2 separate regions of the Homo sapiens genome follow, and region 2 is linked to region 1. The links come from fine-mapping of genetic effects on gene expression. A gene starts in region 1. The other region holds a variant in brackets. All regions are shown on one strand. Distances are from middle to middle.

What was found. PIP is the estimated chance that this variant, and not a neighbour inherited with it, causes the effect.
Region 2: its variant is fine-mapped to the expression of GPD1L in whole blood (TOPMed, PIP above 0.99). The same link has a PIP of 0.9 or more in T cells.

What each region holds. Positions count from the first base shown.
Region 1 is chr3:32,095,460-32,110,568 of GRCh38, reverse strand. It overlaps GPD1L (glycerol-3-phosphate dehydrogenase 1 like), which reads right to left and starts at 3,949. Exons shown (of 8, transcript NM_015141.4): 1 at 3,811-3,949. The coding sequence starts at 3,857. RefSeq lists silencers at 3,547-3,686, 3,807-4,216, 12,186-12,285.
Region 2 is chr3:32,139,460-32,147,459 of GRCh38, reverse strand. It overlaps GPD1L (glycerol-3-phosphate dehydrogenase 1 like), which reads right to left. Exons shown (of 8, transcript NM_015141.4): 4 at 7,094-7,232; 5 at 726-838. Among named protein-coding and RNA genes, the nearest start is that of GPD1L, 37 kb to the right of the region's middle. The variant T/C (reference allele first, on the strand shown) is at 4,086.

The DNA.
Region 1 (15,109 bases):
CTAGATTCAATATTCTGATAACTGTATTGCAACTGATGACAATTGACTTGGGAGAGGCACTCCATGTGAGAGTTCTCAAATGTGACAAACACCTTTATTTACACAAACAGGCTAAGCTGCCCTAAAGTTCCAAGTATAAACATTGCTTAAGCAACTTGACATTCCTGAGGTAAGAACCAGATCTGGAAGGGTAGGTCTATCTCTTGGTGATCTGTATTAAAATTGGCAAAAGGCTAAAGTTCCTTCAGAAAAAAAAATCTCATTCTCAGGGGATATGATTAAGCAAGTCTAGTTTCAGTGGTAATTCTGACACAAGTGGTCTTGGGACCACAATTTAAGAAACACGATTTAGGCCGGGCGCAGTGGCTTACGCCTGTAATCCCAGCACTTTGGGAGGCCGAGGCAGGCAGATCACGACGTCAGGAGATTGAGACCATCCTAGCTAACACAGTGAAACCTCGTCTCTACTAAAAAACACAAAAAATTAGCTGGGCGTGGTGGCGGGTGCCTGTAGTCCCAGCTACCTGGGAGGCTGAGGCAGGAGAATGGCGTGAACCCGCGAGGCGAAGCTTGCGGTGAGCTGAGATTGCGCCACTGCACTCTAGCCTGGGCGACAGAGCGAGACTCCGTCTCAAGAAAAACAAAAACAAACAAACAAAAAAAGAAACACGATTTAAAGTGTAACAGAGCAGTTACTCCATTCCACTTGGCAATTCCTTCGGTCTTATCTTCCATGTCCTCACTGATCTCAGACCTGAAGGTAAGTTGTTTAAGGACCGGGACTGTGTCCAGCTGTGTCTGCATCCCTGGTCAGACCACAGTCTCTTCACCGGGCAACACTCAAATGTCTACTGACTAGAGCTGAACACTCCTCTGGGGCTTCTCCATGTTGTTTTCAGTTTCTGAGTTCCTGAATCCCTCTGGGGAGGTTGTGATCCTCTCTCTAGGACTGGAGTAACTCTGTACCCAAGGCAGTGGCACAGAAGCCAAGAATTGTTCCCGTCTAATCCCATAATTAATGAAGCCAGGCAGCCAGCCCAAACCATCAGCACATTTCTCAATTGCTCTGCTTCAGTATCACTGGCCAAGTTCTACTCCATTTCCCTGGGCTGGAGTGGGCCAAGGAAACAGTCAAGTACACCAGAATGAAGAAGCCACGGGCAGGCAGCCAAATCCCAGCAGAGGGGGCAGGAGGCTCACTTCACTACTCTTGCTCCAGGCCCAGTTCCAGCATGGCAGAGCTGTGCTACTTGTCCTGCATCTTGCAAATTAGGAAAAGGGGCTGTCATCTGTGGAATTGTACAGACTAAAAAACTAATGTTAAAAAAACATGTGCTAAATGGGTGCCTTTCAAGTGGCATGGCCAACAGGGGAGCTGACACTGCACTCAAGTGAGCTTGACATTAAAACTGGCAAAGCCGGCCGGGTACGGTGGTTCATGCCTGTAATCCCAGCACTTTGGGAGGAAGAGGCAGGCGGATCATGAGGTCAGGAGATTGAGACCATCCTGGCTAACATGGTGAAACCCCGTCTCTACTAAGAATACAAAAAATTAGCCAGGCATGGTGGCGGATGCCTGTAGTCCCAGCTACTCAGGAGGCTGAGGCAGGAGAATGGCATGAACCCAGGAAGCGGAGCTTGCAGTGAGCAGAGATCGCGCCACTGCACTCCAGCCTGGGCGACAGAGGGAGACTCCGTCTAAAAAAATAGTAATAAAAAAAAACAACTGGCAAAGCCAAGCTGAAAGTCCAAATTAAGCTTTGCAGCAGCAAGCTACCAACTCTATTAAATATTGTGTAGAACATTCTGTTGTTGGTTGAAAAATGCAGCTCACAGAAAAGTATGCAATACCCTAGTATTTGCAGCGTGGAGGGCGAAAGGACTATATGTAAGCATTCACTTGCATGGAATTCCTCCAGAAAGGACAGAAGTAATTCATAACACTGGTTTTCCTCCAGGAGGTACTCAGGGGGGATAAATGTGGATGGGTGATGTTTCACTGTTTTTGGTACTCTTTGGTTTTTGTTTTTTATTTTTTGTTTTGTTTTGTTCTTTTGAGACAGGGTTTCACTCCCTTCACACAGACTAGAGTACGATGGTGCAATCTGATTTTGGCTCACTGCAACCTCTGCCTCCCAGGCTCAGGCGATTCTGCTGCCTTAGCATCCCAAGTAGCCGGGACTACAGGCGCCTGCCACCACACCTGGCTAATTTTTTGTATTTTCAGTAGAGACGGGGTTTCACCGTGGTCTCAATCTCCTGACCTCGTGATCCCCCTGCCTCAGCCTCCCAAAGTGCTGGGATTACAAGCGTGAGCCACCATGCCCGACTAATATTTTATTTTTTGTAGAGGCGGGGTTTTGCCGTGTTGCCCAGGCTAGTCTCAAACTCCTGGGCCCACCTCAGCCTCCCAAAGTGCTGGGATTACAGGCATAAGCTACTGCGCCCAGCCCTGGTTGTTAAACAATGTGAATGTATTATTCAATCAAATATCATTATGGTTTTAAAAATTAGTTTTTAGGCAGGGAGCGGTGGCTCACACCTGTAATCCCAGCTACTCAAGTGGATGAGGCACAAGAATCGCTTGAATCCAGGAGGTGGAGGTTGCAGTGAGCCAAGATCGCACCACTGCAACAGAGTCTTAGTATTGACTTAGCATATGCCAGGCACTAGGGTAGATGCCATTCTCAAAAGTTGGGAGACAGATAATCAAATAACTCCTTATAATGCAGTGATGCAGGCCAGCAATAGGGACACAGAGAGAGGCCACTGGCCTTGCTGGGATGGAAAAGTGAAGAACCAGGTAAGGTTTCCTTCAATAAGTACTTTCTGGGCCAAGTCTTGAAAGAGTAAAACTAAGACCAACTACCTAGGACCAGCTGCTGCAGCACTTCTGATGCCTGTCACGCCACAGAAAAACCGGTAAACAGAAGCACTGAAAGGACATCATCACTCTTAACTATTGTACACCAGTCCCTCCAATGTGGCAGAGTGTACAGCAATGAAAAAAGGCTTGGAAACACCAGATGCTACACTTTGCTTCCTTCCCCCTTCACACCCCCACCTCTACATTCACCCAAACACACCAGAGAATCCCACAGTGTACGTTTGATTAAGGGTACTAGAAGAACTGACATTTCTAATGTGCTCTATAAAATGTTAAAGTCAAATAAGGCCCCAAAGAGACGCAAAGCTTCGCAAACATCTCGGCAAGGGAGAATTCTCAACGCCTCAGGGAGAGCGGCCTGTTGAAACTTGGATTTTCTTCCTGATACGACGCGCCTAAGATAGTGGACCTATCAGAAGCGGGGGCGAGACGGGCACCTTGAAGGGCAGAGCATGCCCCGCCCGTGACCTGGGCAGCAAGAGCCCTTTAGCCCTCTCCGCCTCGGTTTCCTCAACACCGAAACTGCAGTAAGAATGCTCGAGCCTCCACCAAGTCCTTGACCCAGGAGATCCGCCGTGGAGAACGGAATACGCCCTTAGGATATTGTGCAAAACACCCAGGCGTGGCAAGCAGGTGGCTTCTGTGCGCTCAGTAACGGGGGCGCAGACAGGTGCCCGCGTGCTCGGGGTGCCCTCTCTCCGCGCTGTCCCCCGCACGCACGCGAGCCCAGCGCCTCCCGAGCGAGTGCCCCGGTGCGGCCTCCTCGGGCGCACGGTGCCCAGCCCAGCAACGAGGTCGCCCACCCCGCCTCCCTGCGCGCAGTGCCCGGTGCCCACGCCGCAGCATGGGGCGCGCAGCCCTCACCGCCCGGGAGAGGCGCTTCCTGGAAGCGGAGCCCCGGCCTCCAGCCCGCCGCCGCTCACCAGTTCCCCGAGCCCACGATGCACACTTTCAGGGGCGCCGCTGCCATGGCCGGGCCGAATGTAGCCGCCTGGACCGTGCTTCCCTGGCCGGCTGCCCACCTCCGCCTGTTCAGCCTTGCCCGCAGCGGCTGGCGGCGGCCCCGCCCCTTTCGCCTCTCCGCCAATGGTCGCGGCCACCCCCGCCCGGCGCCGGGGGCCGCAGCTGACAGCGGGGCAGGACCCGCTTCGCCACTCCCAAGAACCACTGCGCACGCCTGGCCCCGGCCGGCCTCCAGGCCCGGCTCCGGCACCGCCCCGCCCTGCCCGAGGCACGTCGGGACATGTAGTCCTCACCCCCCGTCGCTGCGCGGCCCTAGGCAGCAGCTCCCGCCGCGCCACATGCAGGCCCAGGCCACTGAGCAGCGACTCGCGCCCCTGGTTCCCGGTGGAGGCTGCACTCCATCCTCATGGGTGGAGCAGACCCAACCAGCTTGCCGTGGTGCCCCCTACACGCTCCTTTTTCCCTACTCGGGAAGGGCTGCCACATTGCCATTTGGAGCCGAGAGAGGCTCCTAGGTTGACTCTCAAGCCGACCAGACTTGGGGCAGAGCTCGAAATGCCCACCCGACCTTGTCATCCTCTGTTTCATTTGCACAAACAAGACACAGCCTGGCACCTCTGAACTTCTTAGAGAACTTGGATCTTCAGAGGACTTTGGAATTTGGCTGAACAGTACCTGCATTTCAAGGATGACACCTTTTCTAGTTAGAGTCAAGATAGAAACTTGACCTGGTGCAGTGGCTCACACCTGTAATCCCAGCACTTTTGGAGGCCGAGTCAGGAAGATCACTTGAGCCCAGGAGTTCGAGACCAGCCTGAGCAACATAATTAGGACCCCCCACCCCTCTGTACAAAAATTTAAAAAATTAGCCAAGCATGGTGGCACGCACCTATAGTCCTAGCTACTCAGGAGGCTGAGGCGGGAGAATTGCATGTGCCCAGGAGGTCGAGGCTTCAGTGAGCCAGGATAGGGCCACTGCACTCCAGACTGAAGGACAGTGAGACCCTGTCTCAACAAAAAATAAATACATAAAAATAAAGGGAAAAAGGTAACAACAGCTTGCATTCAGTGGGTGTCACCCTCACACGCTTACTTGGCAGGAATTGCTTTACCATTGTCTTTGCCCAGGGCCTGACTTATCCCTTGCTTGTGGTTTGTTTGCATTTGTGAGTAACACAATGCTCTCCTCCTTGACAAATAGAATCTTAGTTTGTTCATTCTGAGCATCAGTCTCTGCCAGGCACTGTGCTAGACGCTGTCAGAGTAGGACAAAGTCCTTTAAACCAGTGGTTCTCAAACTCTGCTGCATATTAGTCACTGGGGCTTTTAAAAATCCCCATGCCCAGACACCATTGCAGGCCAGTTACATCAGAATGTCCCATGGTGGGATCCAGGCATCAGGATATTTACTTATTGACATATATTTTTTGAGACAGTCTCCTTCTGTTGCCCAGGCTGGAGCAGAATTTTTTAAAGTTCAAGAGGTAGTTGCAAAAGCAAGCCAAGATTGAGAACCAGAAGACTAAAATATCAGTGGATTCTGGCTAAAGAAACAAATACTCTAGTACCTACAAAAAACTAAGCCTAGGCCGGGTGCCGTGGCTCACGCCTATAACCCCAGCACTTCAGGAGGTCGAGGCAGGCAGTTCACCTGAGGTCAGGAGATGGAGACTAGTCTGCCCAACTTGGCAAAACCCCGTCTCTACTGAAAATACAAAAAATTAGCCAGGCATGGTGGCAGATGCCTGTAATCCCAGCTACTCAGGAGGCTGAGACAGGAGAATCTCTTGAACCTGGGAGGCGGAGGTTGCAGTGAGCCGAGATCTTGCCTGGGCGACAAGAGCGACACTCCGTTTCAAAAAAATGATAGTAATACTAAGCCTATTAGTTTGATGCTCAGAGAACTGTTATTTTTGCTTTTTTCTCTACATTGTATGAAATATTTATTTGTGTTACTTATGATATTTACTTAAGGAAATACTTAAAGGGAGCTGGTGAGTCAGAGCAGTCTTTCCATCCCCTCACCAATGGTTTGTTCTCAATTATTTGCACTAATGCAAGGATACATGCAGGGATAATGGGAAAGATGGACTAGTAAAGCTTTATTAATCCTTTCTGTATTTGTGTAACAGAACGCATTTGTCAAATTGAATAATGAAGTCATGTCCTTGGGTAGTACACATACACTGCAAATATTTATGTTATCTAACTGAACTAGGGTCCCTTCACCTGACACAGTAAGGCCAAATACCCACACCAAGGTTTGCAGAGGGAGAAAGAAGGGTGTTTATCTGTAGGGTACCAAGCAAGGAGAATCAGGTAGCTCCTCCTTGATGGCTGGCAAGTAAGGGTTTTTAAAGGCAGCTGGGGGCCAGGCGCGGTGGCTCACACCTGTAATCTCAACACTTTGGGAGGCCGGGGTGGGAAGATTGCTTGAGCTCAGGAGTTCAAGACCAGGCTGGATAACACATACCGTGTCTCTACAAAAAATTAAAATTAGCTGGGTGTCCCAGCTAGTCGGAATAGGCTGAGATGAGGGGATTACTTGAGCCTAGGAGGTCGAGGTTGCAGTGAACTGTAATTGTGCCACTGCACTCCAGCCTGAATGAAAGAGCAAGACCCTGTCTCAAAAATAAAAAGTAAAATAAAGGTGCGTGGGGCAGAGGTTACAGGCAAAGTCATAAATCAATACATGGAGCTACACATTGGTTTGACCTAAAAAAGCAGGACATCTCAAAGTGGGGGAGGGGGACCCACAGGTCATAGGTGAATCAGAGATTTTCTTTTTTGCAATTGGTTAAGGAACTTTAGACAAAGCTTTGTCTAAAAATTTGGGGTCAGTAGAAAAGAACGTTAGTTCTCAGCCTGGGCAGTATAGGGAGACCCCATCTCTACAAAAATAATTTAAAAATTAGCTGACCATGCTGGCACAGACCTGTGGTTCTAGCTACTTGGGAGACTGAGGTGGGAGGATTGCTTGGGCCTGGAAGGTGGAGGTTGCAGTGAGCCATGATTGTGCCACTGCACTCCAGCCTGGGCAACAGAGTGATACACTGTCTCCAAAAAGAAAAAATAAAAGAAAAAAAAAGAATGTTAGTTCTGATTTGCAGACATGACTTTCAGGCCCCTCTGAAAGACGTTGAAGAACAGTGGTCAGAGTTCAATCCTCAGTTCCTCCTTATCTGAGGTCTATATGCCAGTGGATACATTTCGTGAGGGTCTGGGTTTTTAAAAAACAACTCAGGGACATAGTTAAGATGCATCATTAGTTTCTATAGGGACCATCTTCTGACTCTAACTTCCTTGGCTTTTTATTTTTGATTTTTTTTTTTTATTTTGAGGTAGAGTCTTGCTCTGTCATCCAGGCTGGAGTGCAGTGGCACAATCTCAGCTCACTGCAACCTCTGCCTCCCAGCTCAAGTGATCCTCTCCCTCAGCCTCTCAAGTAGTTGGGACTACAGGTACATGTCACAATGCTAATTTTTGTATTTTTTGTAGAGACGGGATTTTGCCATGTTGCCCAGGCTGGTCTCGAACTCCTGAGCTCAAGTGATCTGCCTGCCTCAGCCTCCCAGAGTGCTGGGATTACAGGCGTGAGCCACTGTGCCCGGCCTTGGCTATTGTTTTAAGCTACTATTACCTTCTTGCTTATTAATTTGCTCATTTACTTCTAAAGGCTGGGAAGGTGCCTGGAATTTCCCTTGAAGGAACTCAAGATTTTCTGTTATTTCCATGCTTGGGAGATCCACAGGCCTTTAAGAGAGGTCCCTGCTCTTAAATGATTTTGTAAAGGTCCCTTTACACCAAATGATTCATTTTTAGCAGTTGCCTAAAAGTTTTTAGTTTATTTTAAAAAAGGTTTTTTTTTGGTAGAAACAGGGTCTTGCTACGTTGCTCAGGCTGATCTTGAACTCCAGGTCTCAGGCAATCTTCCTGCCTTGGCCTCTCAAAGTGCTGGGATTATAGGCAAGAGCCACCACGCCTAGCCACCTAAAAGTTTTTTGTTTTTTTTTCTTTTTTTTAAATTTTTTGGGGGTCACGTAAAAGTTTTGTACCTTCTCTGGAAACTCTTATTCCTGAATATTACAACTACATTTGCATGAACGTGAGCTACCCACCTATTCTGTGTGTTGGGGTGATCAGACCCAACACTAAGCTGTGGGTGCTACGAAGTCCAGCAGAGTCAAAGGAATGAGAAAAGACAAGAGAGAAAGTGGGACCAGGGGGCCAACGCTAGTATGGAGGCTGCAAAGGCCCTGAGCTCTGGGAGCCCACGCTATTTATTGGTGATAAAACAAAGAAACAGGTGGTGAGGATGTGGGGGTTGGAAGGAAGTGGCGTATCAAGCGAATGAGCTATAGCTGTGAGAGTTTAGCATTTTCTTTGAAACATATGGCTACTTGAGATAATGGGAGTGCTAAAAGCAAGGAGCCCGCAAGTCTAGACCCATTCCAAAGGCCACGAGGGGTTTTAGACCCTGGACCCCTGACATGTTCCAAGCCCTGCCTCAGGTTCTCTCCCAACACTCAGCTTTTCTCCCAACACTGTGGACATATCCTGCCCAGCATCATCCTACAGTGTTTACTGGTCACCTGATATGCACAGCACATTGTGCCAGAACAGAGAGGATAGTCATTTGGTTTTACAGACTGGTTACAAAGATTAAGACAAAAAACAAATAGGTGAAATTTATGAACTTAATGTTGAGAGAATAAAGCAAGTTTCGGGAGAATACATACAGTGTGATCCCATTTCTGTTAGTTAAGAAACAAGCAAAAATAAATCTATCACTAGGGATTCACATGTAGTGAAACCATAGAGGAAAACAAAGAAAGGAAACACACAAAATGCAGGATCATGGATATGGTGAAGGGCAGGATTAGTTATTTATACATTTTGCACATATTAAATAATTTTTGTGTAGATGTTTAATGAAAATCATGGGGGAAAGGAGAAGCCACAGTACAGAGGACTGAAGAATGCCAGACGAATCACAGTGGATAGGAACTAGTGACCTGCTTTCCAATTTTGAGATAGCTGATCTTCTGCCAGTCCCACTCTCTTTTGTCTAAGATGACAGTGCCAACGATGTTGCCACCTTCTCCAAAAGGGTTGAGTAGCCTGGAAGACAAAAGGTTAGCCATTGTCATTGTGACAGTGCCAACTCTTCGGGGACCTGGAGAAGGCTTAGGGCAGGGGTGTCCAATCTTTTGGCTTCCCTGGGCCACACTGGAAGAACTGTCTTGGGCCACACATAAAACACTAATGATAGCTGATAAACTAAAAAACAAAACAAACAAACAAAAACTTGCAAAAAGAATCTCATAATGCTTTAAGAAAGTTTACGAATTTGTGTTGGGCCGCATGCGGTCCATAGGCTGTGGGTTGGACAAGCTTGGCATAGGGTGTCTATAATTTCATGCATGGAGACAATGTCTTTAACAACATGACTGGTTCATGCATTGTGGTAGAAAGAGGTGCCACTAGCTAGCCAAGTAAAAATCAGGCAGCACTTTGGAAACTCAGCCCAGAAATCTTCTTAGAAAGGTCACTGAGTTCATGAAGTACACTTTTTATTTTCCACATTACAGAAGGCCACGGCAACAGTGTTGCCAAACTTTTCTATGTAACTGGAGTCCCCTTTCCTCTCTCCAGATAACATTTCCCTCACTTTTAAGTCCTCACTCCCAGCCTCCTACACCATTACTAACATGCTCCCAGAGGCGTTTCTGGCTTGTATCTGCTGCCCAGTCCCAAAGCCAGTGCTGCGTGTTATGGTATTATCAATACTCCACTTCCAGGTATCAAAATCTGTCCTGATTATTGCTTGTTGCATAACAAACCATACCAAAATGTAGATCTTAAACAACATTTCTTTATCTCTGGAATCTTACATGGGGGTGGATGTTCAAATGGGGCTGGAAGGTCCACTTCCAAGATGATTTGCTTGGATGGAGCAAGATGGAGGCCAAAATGGCTGCCAAATTGTGGGTGTTGCTGCCTGGGAGCTTGGCAGAAGCTGAGGGCTGGAGGCTGGAGTCCTCTACGTGGGCCTCTCTGGAGCTGCTTCTCCATGGCATAGTGCCTGCGTTCCGCAAGGAAGCATCCCAAGAAAAACAAAATGGAAATTGCCGATTTCTTAAGACTTGAGTCCAGAAATGGCCATGACATCACTTTTGTTGTGATCTTTTGGTCAAGAAATTACAGAGCCCAAATTCTAAAGGAAGGGACATAGGCTCTACCTCTCGTTAAAAGAAGTGTCAAAGAATTTGGGGATTATGTTTTAAAATTGCCATTGCCATGCTCTATATTATATATTCGTATTACAAGTGAGGACACTAAGGTACAGCAACACTAATAAACACTTTCCAAGGGTCCAGTGGTGAGTCAGGACCAGAATTTTTGGATTCATATCCTGCACTTATCAACTGTTCATTTATTCTACATGTACTTACTGAGCACCTACTATGTGCTGGTCACTGTGCTGGGTCCCAAGAATTAAATATTAAACAAAAGCTGGATGAGGTGGCTCACACCTGTAATCCCAGTACTTTGGGAGGCTGAGGTGGGCGGATCACTTGAGCTCAGGAGTTCGAGACCAGCCTGGGCAAGACCCCATCTCTAAAAAAAAAAAAAAAAAAAAATTAGCCAGGTGTGGTGGTGCATGCCTGTAGTCCCACCTATTCAGGAGGCTGAGGCAGGAGAATCACTTGACCCCAGGAGGTGGAGGTTGCAGTCAGCTGAGATCGTGCCATTGCACTCCAGCCTGGACAACAGAGTGAGAGTCTGTCTCAAAAACAAACAAAGAAGAGAGGCAAGGTTCCTGACCTCTTAGATGCTTATATTTAAAGGAAGATGTAGACCAATGAACAGGGAAACACCCTAGTGTGATAAATGGTACCAGCTTACTATGGCAGCTCAGAAAAAGACCCTTGTCCCAGATTTGGGAGTTTAGGGAAGGCTTCCTAGATAAAGTAAGATCTCTGCTGAAACCTGAAGAGAAGGTAGCATCGGCAAAGTAAAGGGGTGGGAGAGCAGCTAATGAGCTGCTCCATGCAGAGGGAACAGCACAGGCCAAAGTTCAGAGTCTAGAGAGAGAATGGGATATTCAGAAGCTAAGAGGAGTTTAGTATGGATGGAGGGAAGAATGAATGAGTGACAGAATATGAGGGGAAAGGGGGAATGGAAATAAATAAAAGCAGAGAGGTAGAGGAGGTACCTGATTATGGTTGGCCTTATAAAGCATATTGAAGAATTAGAACTGAAATCCTGAAGGCCAAAAAAACCATTATAGGGTTTCACCAGGAGCTTAACATCATCAGTCTTGTGTCATAGGAAGCATGCTCTGGATGAATTCACAGGGAAAAGTCCCGAAGGCTGAGGCCAGGAAGGAGCCTGCTGCTGTATTCTATAAGAGCCATCATAATGGCTTAGAGTGAGATGGAGACCAGTGTGGTGGTAACAGTGATGGAGACAGGTGATTGAAAGTCAGACATATCTAGGAAGCAGAAAAAAGAGACTTACTACTTTCTCAGGTGGGAGAGAGAAAAGGGTCTAGGATGACTCCAGCTATCAGTCTTGGGCAACTGAATGAATATCATTTGCTAAAATGGGGAACCCAGGAAGAGAAACCGATCTAGAGAGAAGGATGATGAACTCAGTTCTAGACAAGTTAAGTTTGGGGGAAGGTCGTTTGATATCGAAGTTCAGATTTCAGGGAGGCAGTTGGATATGTGAGCCTGAGATAGACACATTTGTCATTTACCAGCATGTACTTAGAAGTTGCAAGTGGTCAGTGCCTAGAACAATGCCTAGCACAGAGTGGGCACTCAATAAATGTTGAATGAAAGTGATTGGGATCACTCAGAGAGATGGGAAGACAAACCAGGATAGACTCTGGAATGGACTTAATATTAAAGAAGAGAAGCATGAGAGGATGAGAAAGAAACAATGAGAACATTGTGTGGTATCACAGTTGCCAAAGGAAGGCAACATTTCAAGAAGGAAGGATGGTCACAGGGGAGTTGAAAGTGGTCAAATAAAAACTAGGGCTGGGTGCAGTGGCTATTCTATGCTTGTAACCCCAGCACTTGGGGAGGCTGAGATGGGCAGATCGCTTGATCCCAGGAGTTTGAGACCAGCCTGGGCAACACAGCAAGACTGTCATAAAAAAAAAAAAATGGATAGGACTAAAGTATAATGCATCTTTCTTTCTTTCTTTTTTTTTTTTGAGACGGAGTCTCGCTCTGTCACCCAGGCTGGAGTGCATTGGCGCGATCTCTGCTCACTGCAAGCTCCGCCTCCCGGGTTCACGCCATTCTCCTACCTCAGCCTCCCAAGTAGCTGGGACTACAGGCACCCGCCACCACGTCCAGCTAATTTTTTGTATTTTCAGTAGACGGGGTTTCACTATGGTCTGGCTCCTGACCTCGTGATCTGCCCGCCTCGGCCTCCCAAAGTGCTGGGATTACAAGCGTGAGCCACTGAGCCCGGCCGTGTAATGTATCTTTCGGGCTTGGAGGATGTTGGTAGGGTCCTCATATGGTTGTGCAGGTAGCACACTGCACAACACCAGCAGGCACCATGCACATTGCAGACATTGCAGATTGGTATACCTAAGATGACTATTTTCTGATAGATGGAAGCAAGCGTCTTGAAAAAGGGAAATGTTTTTCCAGTCCATATGAAAGCAATATATGGGCTAGCCACAGGCCTGTTTTTTTCTGTATCTGGTCAGAGTAAGTCACTTTCAGTTTTGGGGCAGAGCATAAACTCATTGTGTGGTGGGTGGAGGTATAAATAAATGGAAGGTAGGGAAGTGAGGCTTGAGAAAGTACAGATATCTTAGTCTGTTTGTGCTGCTGTAACAAAATACCTGAAACCAGGCAATTTATAAAGAACAGAATTTTTTTGTTTGTTTGCTTTTTTTTGAGACAGGGTCTCCCTTTGTCGCCCAGGCTGGAGTGCAATGGCAGGATCTTGGCTCACTGCAACCTCCATCTCTCAGGTTCAAGTGGTTCTCGTGTTTCAGCCTCCTGAGTAGCTGGGATTGCAGGCTTGTACCATTATGCCTGGCTATTTTTGTATTTTTAGTAGAGAGAGGGTTTCACCATGTTGGCCAGGCTGGTCTCAAACTCTTGGCCTTAAGTGATCTGCCTGCCTTGGCCTCCCAAACTGCTGGGATTACAGGCATGAGCCACCGAGCTCAGCCCAGAAATTTATGTCTTAGTTCTGGAACCTGGAAAGTCCCAGGTCAAGGTGCTGGCATTCAGTGTCTGGTAAAGGCCTTCTTGCTTGTCCTCACATGATGGAAGAGCAGAGGGAAAAAAAAAAGGGCCTAATTCCCTGTATCGCTTTTATGAAGTCATAATCTGGCCAGGTGCTGTGGTTCATGACTATAATCCCAGCACTTTGGGAGGCTATCATGGGAGGATTGCTTGAGCCCAGGAGTTTGAAACCAGCCTGGACCACTTGGCAAGACCTTGTCTCTACAAAAAAATTTTTAAAATAGCTGGGCATGGCGGTGCACACCTATATCCCCAGCTACTTGGGAGGCTGAGGTGGGAGGCTCCCTTGAGGCCAAGAGGTTAAGGCTTCAGTGATTGTGTCACTGCACTCCAGCCCGGGCAATAGAGCAAGCCTGTCTCAAATAAACAAATAAAGTCATAATTCCCAATTAGAGCCCTCATGACTTAATCACCTCCTAAAGGCCCCACCCCTTAATACTATCAAATTGGGGATTAAGTTTCAACATGAATTTTGGAGAAGACACAGACATTCAAACTGCAGCAGTAGACAGTGTTTTCTAGAAGTTTGGCTGTGAGAAGATGAGAGCTAGGGACACGAGGAAAAGGAGAGGCAAAACTAAAGAGTAGCAAAATAATTTTAGTTTTTTTGTGCTTGTTTGTTTTACATCATGTGGAGGAGGCTAGAATATGTTGAACTAGTCCTGGGGAGGAGCCAACAGAGAGGGAGATATCTAAAATACAGGAGAGGCCAGGTGCAGTGGTTCATACCTGTAATCCCAGTAGGAGGATCTCTTGAGTAGTTGTGATTCCAGCTACTCGGGAGGCTGAGGCAGGGGGATCCCTTGAACCCAACAGTTTGAGGTTGCAGTGAGCTATGATTGTGCCACTGCACTCCAGACAGAGCAAGACTCTGTCTCAAAAGGTAAATAAAATGAAATACAAAAGAGAGACTGAGAATGAGATTGGGAGTAAGAGTGAGAGATAAATTAGTCTTTTTTTTTTTTTAATTGAGACAGAGTTTTGCTCTTGTTGTCCAGGCTGGAGTGCAGTGGCGTGATCTTGGCTCACTGCAACCTCTGCCTTCTGGTTTCAAGTGATTCTCCTGCTTCAGCCTCCCGAGTAGCTGGGATTACAGGCACCCGCCACCATGCCAGGCTAATTTTTGTATTTTTAGTCGAGATGGCATTTCACCATGTTGGCCAGGCTGGTCTCGAACTCCTGACCTTATGATCCGCCTACCTCGGCCTCCCAAAGTGTTGGGATTACAGGCGTGAGCCATGCGCCCAGCCAAGGGATTAGTCTTATATTAGACAAGATGGTCCCAGAAAAATTCTCTGAGAAGGAGACATCTGAACGCATGGAAGGAGCCTGCCATGGGAAGGTGGGAAGAAGACAACTCCAGGGAGGGGGACTGCTAGTGTAAAGGCCCCGAGGCAGTGCAGAGCCTGCATGTTTGAGGAACAGAAAACTATAATTAATAAGTAAGTATGAGAGAGAGGAGCATTTCAGTCAGAGACACAGTCAGCCCAGATTAAATAGCAGGGTCTTGTGGTCCATAGTATTAAAAAAAAAAAAAAAAAGGATTTCCCACTAGGCAAATCTGAGTCAATGCATGCATTAAAATTAATAATAATAGTTATGAATTTAAACTCTTTGAATAAAAGTTCATGAGCCTATACCGATTCAAAGAAACAAGTAAACAAACAAGGCAGAAGGGAAATAAGTAAACAAACAAGGCAGACAAACAAGTCAAATGTCAACCCATAAATATGGAAAGAATGATGGCTCTAGACAATCATCAATGGATGCTAACAATAGTGACGAAAGTTTGATGTGGGACAGGATATTTATTTAGCATTAAAGTGTCCACACAAATTGTTTACAAAGGATAAAACAGTAACTTTACTGTAGAGTAAACTGGCTGACACCACCTTAACCACATGGTCAAAGTCATTGCCAGTGACGGGACAAACTGATACATGCATCTTCTTTAACTAAAATGAGAAGATAT
Region 2 (8,000 bases), 40 kb before region 1:
CCCAGGTGTGGAGACCTCCCTTTACCTCAAAAGAGGGGAAAAAAAGATAACATAAACTACATACTTATGATTTTTGTACTTTTCTGTATGAAGTACCTCTTAAAATTTACATTAAAACAAACAAAAATACACCTCCAATCAAAGAAGCCGGACACAAAAGAGTGCATACTGTACAGTTCCACTTACAAAAATCCAGCAAGCCACTGGCCAGTGGAGTGCATTTCTTTAATCACATCTTCTCTCTCTTGAGGGCAAAGACAAAACTATTCTTAGAAAAACCTCTACCAGCAGCAGATTATTTTTTCCCTTAATAAGAACAACCAGCCAAACTAGTAGAGTAGCATAATTCAGAGGAAACAAGTTCCTTTTCCTGCTCAGGATGAAGTGTGGGAGAAAAACATGAATGAATAGAATCATTTGCTCCTGGGTGAAACCCTGTCATCAAGGAACTCCCATGCTTTCCAAATATCAATGCTGCCAACTTCCCAAAGACCAAAACATCACAATTCCCCCATATTTACAAGTTAAAGCAAGCCACGAGTAAGAGAGGAACTGAACCACCCGGGAAAGGCTGCAGCAAAACAGGAAGTTATAAACAAGACTCTCAATTCACTATTCTTCGCTGATGTGGGTGCACAGAACACAGAGCCCATTCTTGAGGATTAGACTCAATGATGCTAACATTTGCCTTGCTTGATGAACTCCTCCCCTGAGGCTGACTTTACCTTAAGCGCACCACAGAGTTCAACAGTGTCTGCATCATCAACCACGGTAATTCGAAAATTTGGAGTCTGCAGAAGTTCTTTGAAGAGAAGGCCGTTCTCCATTACTTTGCTGCCTGTTGAAAGGTTAGACAACAAGGATATTAATAACAGCCTCTAATCTTAATTTTCACACCTAATACACTTTAAAATAAGTTTCTACTTACTATAAAAGTAACATGTTCATGATAGGATATTTAGAAAACACATAGGAGCAGAAATAAAGTAAAAATATCCCGTTTCCAATCGAGGTGATCATTTACAATTTGACATACATTTTTAACTGACCGAATGTGAATCTAAAGTTTTTTTTGGCCAGACACGATGACTCACACCTGTAATCCCAGCACTTTGGGAGGCTGAGGCGGGCAGATCACGAGGTCAAGAGATTGAAGCCATCCTGGCTAACATGGTGAAACCCCATCTCTACTAAAAATACAAAAAATTAGCTGGGCGTGGTGGCACGTACCTGTGGTCCCAGCTACTCAGGAGGTTGAGGCAGGAGCATCGCTTGAACCCAGGAGGTGGAGGCTGTAGTGAGCTGAGATCTCACCACTGCACTCCATCCTGGGCAACAGAGCGAGACTCTGTCTCAAAAAAAAAAAAAAAAAAAAAGAAAAAAGCATGATTGTCAACAAGTAAAACTACACCAAGAAGTGACACAATGTCAAAATAATCCAGGCCATCTGAGGGTTGAGAGAGGGTGGGGAGTGGATGAAATGAGACTGGCCAGGAGTTAATCATTTCTAAAGATGGGTGACGGGCATGTGAGGTTCGTGATACTACTCTACTTTTCTGAAAAGTTTCATAATAAAACACAATATCTACACCCAATACTTAGAAACACAGTCTACTCTGTAGCATTACTGTTCTTTCATTTAGCTGAGTTCCCCTTTTCCAAATGTTAGAACTATGTCAGTTTGTGCAAACTGTTCTCTTCCTTTTTAAACAGTCCACCAGGCTGTCTAGGTGACTCTGTGCAACACTGTTGCATCATCTGGGTTGGGTAAACCAGCCCCTGGCCCCTACATCATATTACAGCCTCATCGTGTCTCCTCCCACTGCTCAGTGCCTCCAACATGAAGCATGCTCCTGAACATTGCAGACCAGCCCCTCCCTCAAGTCACTTTAATCCAGCCATCTGCAGCTGGAAACTTGGGTTGCTGGTGAACAAACTGAGGAATGGGCAGGGGAAGGCACACTCTTGGCTTGCCATAGATACAAGGTAGGGTCTATGGGTTCCTTTGTGGCTGCAAATAACGCAATGCCCATCCAAGAGGTGGGCTTGATTTATAGCAATCTCATATTTTCTCAAAGGTACCTTTTAAAATTTATTACCTTAAATCATGGATAATAGGTAGTAACTTTATTTATTTATTTATGAGACAGAGTTGCTGTGTTGCCCAGGCTAGAGTGCAGTGGCACTATCTCAGCTCACTGCAACCTCCACCTCCCAAGCTCAAGCGATTCTCCCGCCTCAGCCTCCTGAGTAGCTGCAACTATAGGCATGCGCCACCATACTCGGCTAAGTTTTGTATTTTTAGTAAAGATGGGGTTTCGCCATGTTGGCCAGGCTGGTCTCGAACTCCTGACCTCCAGCAATCCACCTGCCTTGGCCTTCCCAAGTGCTGGGATTAAAGGCATGAGCCACCGCACCCGGCCCGCGAATTTTATTATTAATATAATACCAGTCATAAGCCAGCGCGGTGGCTCATGCCTGTAATCCCAGCACTTTGGGAGGCTCAGGTAAGTGGATTACTTGAGGTCAGGAGTTCGAGACCAGCCTGGTCAGCATGGCGAAATCCCATCTCTACAAAAAATTCAAAAATTAGCCTGGCGTGGTGGTGTGTGTGTGTGTGTGTGTGTGTGTGTGTGTTCCCAGCTACTCAGGAGGCTGAGGCATTAGAATCATTTGAGCCCAGGGGGCGGAGGTTGCTGTGAGCCGAGATCACGCCACTGCACTCCAGCCTGGGCAACAGCGTGAGACTCCATCTCAAAAACAACAACAACAACAACAACAAACCCCAGTAATAAACAGTGACATGGCAAGCAGGGACTCAGGGCATCTGTACAGAACAGCTAATGCCGGACAGCCATGTGGGAAGGTTGCCCAAAACTCAATGTAAACCAAAGACAGGAAAATCCCCTTTCTCTGTCACACCAAGTTTTAGAGGCAATTAACCTATGTAATAAAACTCCTTCAAAACCCTTATTTTAGTTTGTGATTCCATATGTGTTTGTGTGCTTACAAGTTCCATAAGGAGCTTATGTATTCTAGACATTTGGCACCATGCCTGATACATAAGAGGGTTTGAAAAATATTTGTGGAATGACTGGATTAAAAGCCTCAGAGTCTGTGGTATGCCCCAAGAACGAAAGGAGACCTTACCACAAGAGGGCACTGTAGTTCACCATGACAGGATTTTGAGGCCTGAAGCTGCCCTATCTTTTCCCTCCACAGAAGATTCAAGTGGGCCACGATTCCTGAACCTACCGCAATTTAAAATAGTCCCTATGCATCAACAAAGGATGTCTGGATAACCACACTGCAATGATCAAATACAGAAAATGTAATGTTTACATAATATTATTATCTAACATATAATCCACATTCAAACCTCACCAATCACCTCTGCATTGTCTTCCACAGCAACCCTCCCTGCCTAATCCAGGACCCCACACTGCACATAGTGCTCATGTCTCCTTTTTGATTTTTAGAGACAAGGTCTTGCTCTGTCACCCAGGCTGGAGTGCCATGGTGCGATCACTGCTCATTGCAGCCTCCACCTCCCACGCTGAAGCAATCCTCTCATCTCAGGCTCTCGAGTACCTGGGACCATAGGCGTGCACCACCACACCTGGCTAATTTTTGTATTTTTAGTAAAGATGAGGTTTCGCTTGTCATGTTGACAAGGCTGGTCTCAAACTCCTAACTTCAGGTGATCCGCCCGCCTCAGCCTCCCAAAGTGCTGGGATTACAGGTGTGCGCCACCACACCTGGCTAATTTTTGTATTTTTTGTAGAGATGGGATCTCATTATGTTGCCCAGGCTGGTCTCAAACTCCTAGGCCCAAGTGATCTCCCACCTTGGCCTCCCAAAGTGCTAAGATAATAAGTGTGAGTCACCACGCCTGGCTCGGTAATATATCTTTAGTCCTTTTTATTCTGGGACACTCCTTTAGCCTTTCATTGTCTTTCATGACACTGACTTTTTTGAAGAGTCAAAGATACCATTGGCCTGTTGTTTTATAACATATCTCTTACTTTGGGCTTGTCTGATATTTTCTCATGATTAAATTCAGGTTATAGGCTGGGCACAGTGGC[T/C]CGCACCTGTAATCCCGGTACATCAGCAGGCTGAGGCAGGAGGATCCCATGAGGCCAGGAATTCGAACAAGACTCTACTTTTAAAAATTAATTAATTCAGGTTATATAAAACAATTTTTAAACATCACTTTCATATTCTATCTTACTTTCAATGTTTTACTTAAATTTTTTTTTTTTAAAGAGACAGGGTATTGCTGTCACCCAGGCAGGAGTGCAATGACGTGATCATAGCCACTGCAGTGACTACAGCCTCGCTCAATCTCCTAGCCTCAAGGTGATCCTCCCACAGCAGTCTCCTGAGTAGCTGGGACTACAGGTATGTACTACCATACCAGGCTAATTAAAAAATTTTTTTTTTTCTTTTTTGGAAACTCCCAGCTACATTTCCCAGGGTGATTTCAAACTCTTGGCCTCAGAAGATCCTCGGCTTTAGCCTCACGAGAGCTACTCCACCCAGAAATGCTTTACTTAATTTAATTCAGGTCATCAGTGCTTATCACACTCCACCCCACAGAGAAGGCATAGAAGCACCGGGTAAAGAAATGCCAGAGGGAAAGAAATGCAACTTATGTGCTTTTATCTGTTTTTTAAAACCAAAAAAGCCTAATGTACCCAACTAGAAACTTTCCTACAACAAACAGGGCTAGAGTCCTAGCCAGGATTGGATCAGGGATTGGGATTGCAGATTAAGATTTAGTCTTCCAGAATGAACTGGGAAAGGATTATTGGCAAATAGGATTGAGTTGGAACAAACTAGTTAATCTTTTTGGGAAAATATAAGTAATTACATAACAATTTCACAGGCTATATTAAAACTGCAGATAAATAAAAGAATTTACTGTAAAAGAATAAGACATATTCATATATGTACATACTAGCATACAAATATAAATAAATTTTTTCCAGAAGAATATTTAGAAACTGCTAATAGTAAAAGCCATTAAAAAAGAATGAAATCAGCCGGGCGCGGTGGCTCACATCTGTAATCCCAGCACTTTGGGAGGTTGAGGCAGGTGGATCATGAGGTCAGGAGATCAAGACCATCCTGGCCAACATGGTGAAACCCTGTCTCTACCAAAAATACAAAAATTAGCTGGGCGTGGTGGCGCATGCCTGTAATTCCAGCTACTTGGGAGGCTGAGGCAGGAGAATCGCTTGAACCAGGGAATTGGAGGTTGCAGTGAGCCAAGATAGCACCACTGCGCTCAAGCCTGGCGACAGGGTGAGACTCCATCTCAAAAAAAAAAAAAGAAAATCATGTCCTTTGCAGCATGGATGCAGCTGGAAGCCATTATCCTAAGTGAGTTAACATAGGAACAGAAAACCAAATACTGCATGTTCTCACTTACAAGTGAGGGCTAAACATTGGGTACCCATGAACATAAAGATAGCAACAACAGATACTGGGGACTACTAGAGAGGAGAGAAAGGAGGGAAGGATTGAAAAACTACCTGTGGGGTACTATGCTCACTACCTGGGTGACAGGATTAGTCATAACCCAGACCTCAGCATCATGCAATACACCCATGTAACAAACCTGCACATGTACCCCCGAATCTAAAATAAAAGTTGCAATTATAAAAAACAAAAAAGAAACTGCTAACAGTGATTCCCTCTGGGAAGAGGGAAATGGGTGGGAAATTACAATCTTAGTTCTACTTTTCCACCTTCTCATGGTGCTTGAATTTTTTTTTAAACCTGTGTCTGTATCACTTTCGTAAATGACAACCTGGGCAGGTGGTATCATAGGCTATTCTTTTCTTCTTTGTATTATTTGTGATACTTCTCCTCTCCAACAAATATTATTTTTCAAAAAAAAGTTTTGTATCCAAATATATGGAATTGCTGATGGAATGCTATGCAGTTATGAGGATGTACAGTATGTTAACAGACTCTGAAAGGTTTTTGTTACATATTCAGCGAATAAAGCAATTATTAAACAGCATATGATTCACTACAAACATAATAGTTCATACAAATAGTAAAAAAGGATATATAACAAAATTATCAAAAATTTAAAATGGCTTTCTTTTGATTATCTCTATCTTCCATAATAATCATGTAAAATACCTCCATAATTAAAAATAAAAATTAAGGTAGAAAATTCCAAAAAAATCCTAAAAAGTCCTACGTATAGGCAGGTATAAGAATCTGGAGCTACATTTTCCTGCGCATTCATCTCATGCAAGAGAGCCTGACATCTCTCAGAGCTTCCTTTTACAAAGCTGCCAAGGGGAAATGATTCATATTGCTTGCAGGTTTGATAAGGGTGAAAGTAAGTTCTGCAGTGGTAGATAAACTTTTGCAAAGCATCTGAAAATACAATAATATTACTCTTCCAACAAAGCATCGTTTAATATAGTACACGGACACTTGAGAATTCTCAAAGCCCCTTTCAAAAGAAATGAAAATTTTCATAACGTCAATGTGAGAATAATGTATCTAATGTATAATGTGTAAGAGTAGAAAAGGCTTACTAGTTCAGGAAACAGAAGACTCAAATTTGTTCCTGGCTTCTACATTAGTGTGTGATCTTGGGGCAGGTAATTTATTCTCTGAGTCTTATCATTCACCTGAAAATGGGGGTCATTCAACCAATTTTTAGATCTCACTGGAATCAATGAGGATCCAGATACTAACATTTGTAAGAAAAGAAAATTTGGGCTTCTGAGGCCAGGGGACCCCTACCATGGATGTAGCCACCTGTTTCTTGGTACAAGCAACCTTGCACTTTTGTGTTTAACCTCAGTAATTCATTATTGGATCACAGCAAGTCAGAATGCTCTTCTTGGCTATATTCATTTATATTCATTCTGGAGGTTGTTGAAACACTTCAGTTCCACAAAATAGCCTCCTTAAGTAAAACCCTCGCCCCACTGAATGCCCAACTAAGGAATGTTAAGAGGGACAGGGAAGAGTCTATTACAGAAAATATCAGAAATGGAATATGTACATGTTCAAACATCAAATGTCCAGACTCCTGGGGTCCCTCCCAGGCAGTGCTTACCGATGGTGGTCTCACAGAACTTCTCTGCAGCCACCTCATTGGCAATGTTGGCTCCCATCAGCACACTGATGTCAATACCCATCTTCTCACGGATGATGTCAGAAATGAGCTTCAGCCCCTCGGGGCCCTCGTCTATGCCCTACAAGGATGCCAAGAAGTTAGGAGAGAACAAACCGCCAAATCAAAGAGGCATGGGATAGTAGATGTCCCATGGCTACACAACTTGAAAAATGTCTCCTACTTACAAGAGTAAAAGCATCTATACTGCCTATGTACAGCTTAAAGAAGAATCAAATGAAGAAAATAAACATGTACTCATCACTCGTGTTAAGAAATAGAACGTGACTGACACCACTGAAGTCCCCTGTGTGTCTCCTCTCAAGTTCATCCTCCTTCTACCCCTGCTCCCCAGGGTGAACCACTGTCCTGAATGCTGTATGCATTGCTCCCTTGCTTTTCTTGACTATTTTACCACATCGGATGGTCCCTAGACAATGTTATACGTCATTATCCCTGGGGTTTCAAGTCTATAAAGAGAGTTGTGCCATTCACCTGTGATGTGCTGTCTTGAACTACAATACCGTTTTAGAGATTCACTCATGTGGCTGCATCAAACTTCTGGTTCGTTTCTGTTCACTTACTGCACAGTATTCCAAAATGAATAGTTCACATTTCATTTGTCTACTCTCTTGCTGATGACATTTGGGTTGCTCTGGTTTGCCTTCATGAACATTCATCTGTAAATGCTCTGGCACAGCCTCTCTTGGGAGTTCTTAATCTTTCCAACGACATGGGCCTTACCCCTGGTAGTCTGGTGAAGTTTATGGACTCATTCTCAGAATTTCATATGCATAAAACAAAACACCTAAAATAACCCAGGAATCCAATTATGTTGAAATTTGTTTAA